2 separate regions of the Homo sapiens genome follow, and region 2 is linked to region 1. Evidence: fine-mapped expression QTL. Tissue or cell type: whole blood. Region 1 holds a variant in brackets; the other region holds the start of a gene. All regions are shown on one strand. Distances are from middle to middle.

The links. PIP is the estimated chance that this variant, and not a neighbour inherited with it, causes the effect.
Region 2: NLRX1 starts here. The variant in region 1 is fine-mapped to the expression of NLRX1 in whole blood (TOPMed, PIP 0.98).

What each region holds. Positions count from the first base shown.
Region 1 is chr11:119,121,548-119,124,047 of GRCh38, reverse strand. It overlaps HINFP (histone H4 transcription factor), which reads right to left and starts at 2,468. Exons shown (of 10, transcript NM_198971.3): 1 at 2,409-2,468. RefSeq lists a silencer at 2,455-2,500. The variant C/T (reference allele first, on the strand shown) is at 957.
Region 2 is chr11:119,167,354-119,170,097 of GRCh38, reverse strand. It overlaps NLRX1 (NLR family member X1), which reads right to left and starts at 1,373. Exons shown (of 10, transcript NM_001282144.2): 1 at 796-1,373. RefSeq lists enhancers at 1-577, 578-1,283 and a silencer at 855-1,464.

The DNA of each region.
Region 1 (2,500 bases):
AGGAGTTTGTGACCAGCCTGGGCAACATGGCAAAATTCCGTCTCTACTAAAAATACAAAAATCAGCCGGGCGCAGTGGCTTATGCCTGTAATCCCAGCACTTTGGGAGGCCGAGGCGAGGGGATCACAAGGTCAGGAGATTGAGACCATCCTGGCCAAATACAAAAAATTAGCTAGGTATGGTGGCACACGCCTGTAGTCCCAGCTACTATGGAGGCTGAGGCAGGGGAATCACTTGAACCCGGGAGACAGAGGTTGCAGTGAGCCGAGATCGCACCATTGCACTCCAGCCTAGTGACAGAGCAAGATTCAATCTCAAAAAAAAAAAAAAAAAAAAAAAAACAGCCGATGTGGTAGCATGCACCTGCAGTCCCGCTACTTGGGAGGTTCAGGTGGGAGGAAGGCTTGAGCCCAGGAGGCAGAGGTTGCAAAGAGCCAAGATCACACCATTGTACTCCATCCTGGGCGGCAGACCCAGACCCTGTCAAAAAAAAAAAAAAGAAGAAAGAAATATTGAATATTGACTGCTTTTATAATGTTGTGGTAAGAAAAGTAGAAAAAAGCTTCAAAAGTCATAAAATCCCACACCTCCTCTGACTATTACAGTATGAAATGCAAGGCTCTTCTCAAAGTGGTCTCAATTTTACTTCTCCAGTTCTAGGTAGGGAAACGAACATCTATTGAGAAGCTACAGTGTGTCAGCCCTGTGGTGAGTCCTCTCTACACTTCATCTGATGTAAGAGCACCCTCATTCCAATCCAAAGATCATGCTCTTTCTCCCACATGATGCTGTTCTCTGGCTTCCTCACCCATACTTCATTCCCTCTTCCTCTGATTCAATCATCTTTGTCTCTGAATACTCTACATTCTCCTAAAACTCTCTGCCTACGCAAGTTCTTTTTTTTTTTTTTTTTTTTTTTGGAGATGGAGTCTTGCTCTGTCGCCCAGGCTGGAGTG[C/T]AGTGCTGTGATCTGGGCTCACTGCAACCTCCGCCTCCCAGGTTCAAGCGATTCTCGTGACTTAGCCTCCGAAGTATTATAGCTGGGACTATAAGCACGCACCACCACGCCCAGCTAATTTTTGTAGTATTAGTAGAGACGAGGTCTTGCCATGTTGGTCAGGCTGGTCCCAAACTCCTGACCTCAAGTGATCCGCCCGCCTCGGCCTCACAAAGTGCTGGGATTACAGGTGTGAGCCACCGCGACAGGCCTACCTATGCAACTTCTATTCGCCTTTCAAACCCCAAAGTCTTCTCTTTGATGACCCCCTTCCCAATTCATCCAGGTACAGCTGGCATATCCCATCTCTTGCCCACGGCATCCACACACATCTTTGCTATCAATGCAATGAAACTTGTTTCCCCTAGACTAGGAGTTTCTCAGGACAGTGGCCATCACTTATTCACTTCTCATTCTCAGATTCAGCACAGAGCTTTGCACACCCCAGGTACTCAATAAATATCAGGAGATAATCACATTCCGGGAAGCCTTCCTAAACTACCCCATCCCTGAATCTACTCTTGCTCCTTAGTTCTATGGCTGGCACAGCTGACACCATAAAACTTCAACCCTATTTTCATGTTGCCATGGTCGTTTTATGTGTTCTAGTCTCGTTTACCCAATTGGACTATAAGAAGCTTCTGAGCAGAAACCATATCACACCTGCCCGTGTCCCTACACTGTGCCGAGCACAAATATTCTAAACATACACCTGCTGTTAGACTGGTGGGTAAGTCCAAGGAGGCAAGCTAGCTGGCGATACAGAATGATCTGAAACCTAGGCAAAACTCCCTGACGCTCTCTGACTGTCCTCCTGTCTTCTTTAATTTCTCTTTCTGTGTCTCTTGTTTCTACTCTGAGGAGATAGGGGCATGATCTTCACTCTACCCTCTTAACACTTAAGAGGGCATATACTGTAACGCAAGACAATGAATGAACTGTGGTATTCAAGAAAAAAAGGGTCCTAAACGCCTAAGAACTCATAATTTGGCCAAAAAGATAAGACTGATACGTGAAGACAACGACCGAAACAAAGTACCCGATGAGGGAGACCAGGACAGAGAGACACCTCCGCGGTCAGGCGAAAAGGAAGTCTCCCCTAAGCAGTGGGGCCCGCACCACGCCTCGAAGGACAGGTAGAATTTGGACAGAAGGAAGGAGACCGTCCCGTTGGGCAAAACCTCTCCACTCGCAGTCCCGCAGGCTTCCCGGAATCCTTCACGCTAAGGCGTGGCGGCGACCGAGTCTCAGCCGCAGCGAAGCCCCTAGACTAGAAAGCAGGGAGGTTCCAGTCGGGGTGAGGGGACCGGACCAGGGCAGACCAGCGTGGCCAAGCGGCAAGAATACTCGCCGAGGTGGCTCGGGAAGAGCTTGGCCTCCTGCAGCCCCTGCAGAGCACATACCCCAGCTTACCGTCTGTCGGCTCCAGGTCTCTTCAGCTCTTCTCCCACCTCAGACCATCTCCGGAGAGGCGCTTGAGGGACGGTCAAGGAAAGCCAATCGTC
Region 2 (2,744 bases), 46 kb before region 1:
AATTTGTTCATACACTCTTCCCAGTTTGGAATGACCTTTTTCCTCTGTTAGAGTCCCAACCAATTTTTTTTTTTTTTTTTTTTTTTTTTTTTTTTTTCCTGAGACAGGGTCTCTCGCTCTGTTGCCCAGGCTGGAGTGCAGTAGTACGATCTCAGCTCACAGCAACCTCTACCTCCTGGGCTCAAGCCATCCTCCTGCTTCAGCCTCCTGAGTAGCTAGGACTAAAGTGGTGTGCCACCACACCTGGCTAATTTTTGGCTTTGGTTTTTGTAGAGACGGGGTTTTCACCATTGTTGCCCAGGGTGGTCTCGAACTCCTGGGCTCAAGTGATCCGCCCGCCTTGCCCTCCCAAAGTGCGGGGACTGCAGGCGCGAGCCACCACTCGGGCCCCAACCAATCTTTTAAGATCCTGCTCAAAAGTCTCCGTCCCTGGGAAGTCTTTTCTGAGGCCTCTGAACTCACTTAAATGGAATGTGCCCCTATTTGGCACCTGGTCTCCTCCACTGAGATCGGGGCTTCTTGGGCAGGGTACGCTTAAGGAGAACTGGCTGCATTGGGCCACCTGCCTTAGCAGGGCCAACCAGCGGAGGAGCTGGCTGGGTGCTGGCCCGTCCCAGGGGCTGCGGAAGGGTTAAGAGAGGGCTCCAGAAGCCTGAGAAAGCCTAGGTTCCGGTTTAACCTCGGATCTAGGGCCACTGAGTCAAGACGGGACTTGCGGGGCCGAGGGCAGTTCTCCGGTGATCACCCAGGTCTCCAGGGCAATGAGAAAAGGAGGGGGCACTGCAGGAAACGTACAGGGGCGGTGTTCCTACAGGTCCAGAGCTCCTCCACCAAACTGGGTCCCAAACAGCTCTCCTACTTTCGGGTGGCCTCGGGAACGCAGGGGGAGACTTGCCAGAACGCCCGCCATTCAGCGCCCAGCTCCGTCCCTCTCGTTCTCGGCCGGGATCTCCCCGCGGCCCTTGCACAGCCTCCTCCCCCGGCCCGCCCTGCCCCCCGCTCAGCGCGGCCTCCCAGCCAGGGCGCAGGGGTTATCAAGCCCGCTAGGCCTTTACCCGCGGCTGCCCAGTTCCGGGAGCCGTCGGCCGCGGCCCAGAGGGGTCGGCTGGGCGGACGCCGGCGTCTCCCGCTAGCTCCCAGAGTCCCCGGCTCCTCGGCGTGGCGCTTCCTGCCCACCTCCGCCCGCCTGCGCGGCCCTGGCACCTGGCAGCGGGCGCGAAAGAGGACGAGCCCAGGCACTCGGGCCTGCGGGGTCCTGGGACGAGGGGGTCAGCGAGAGGGGCCCGGTGCTCCGGAGCAGGCGCAGGGCTGGAACCCCGGCGCCACCCGTCCCGCCATCGTCCCCCCTCCCTGCCTCCATCCCCGCGGGCACTGCCGCTAGTACTGCCCTCTGCAGGTTCCCAAGCGCCAGTGACACCCAGTGACCTCACTAACCACCTCCCAGGCTGGGCTGCTTGTTAGGCCCATTTTACAGATGAAGAAACTGATGCTCAGAAGGGTGAAATGACTTGTGCAGGTTGATTCAGTTAGGAAGTGGATGAGCCAGAACAACATCCCGGGCCTGAGTCTTCCTACCTTACCCCTGGGCCTCCCTGAGGCGCGGTGTCCAGGGGATTCTTCCCTCTGTCCCTCTCCGCCTCCCCAGCCTACCTTCAGGCAGAGACCTGAGCCTAAGGCTTCCTTGGGTTCTGCCTTATGTATCCGGTCCTCTTCAGAGCCCAGACCTATGTGTGTGGCTGCTGGTAACCTTGGTTAAGAAAGAAGGAAGAATGGGGGCTGAAGGACAACTTGCACCCCAACCTGCTCTTCGGGTCTGACACCCATTCATGGCCTAGCCCTGGGGCTTCCCAGTTCCCAAAGCCCCCACCCTTATCCCTACACTTCCACACACTTCCACACCCTGGGCTCACGTAGCCCAGAAGGAGGAGCCACCCACCACCCACAGCCAGGGCACGCCTTCGTATGCAAGCATGAGTGTACGATGTTCACACAACAGAGCTGTGCACTAGGGCACCCACAGAGAGGCTCTCCAGGGCAGGGCTGGGAAGAGGACTTACTGAAAACAATGTGGATGTTTCATTTAGACATTTGTTCATTCGTTGTACTGTGGTATTGGGTAGCACTGAGCACCTCACCCCCACAAGCCAGGTCCAGCACTAGGCCCTGGGCTGCCAACCACAGCAAGGCAGGCACCTCACTTTAATGGAATCAACTACCACATTTACAAATGATGTACTTCAAGGCCGAGGCAGGAGGATCACTTGAGACCAGGAGTTTGAGACCAGCCTGGGTGACATAGTGAGACCCTGTCTCTATTTAAAATGAAAATAGAAAATAAAAATATAAAAAACAGACAAACAAATGATGTACTTCAGTGGCAGAGGCAAGGCATTAGGAGAGTCTGGAAAAGGGAGTGCAGAGGAGGTAACATTTGTACTGGATCTGAAAAAATAAATCAGAGGACCAGCCGCGGTGGCTCACACCTGTAATCTCAGCACTTTGGAAGGCTGGGGGTGAGGGCAGATCTCCTGAGGCCAGGAGTTTGGGACCAGCTCAAACTCGTCACCATGGCCAACATGGTGAAACCCCCGTCTCTACTAAAAATAACAAAAATTGGCCAGGCATGGTGGCTCATGCCTGTAATCCTAGCACTTTGGGAGGCCAAGGCAGGCGGATTGCCTGAGCTCAGAAGTTCACGACCAACCTAGGCAACGTGGTGAAACCTCATCTCTACTAAAAATACA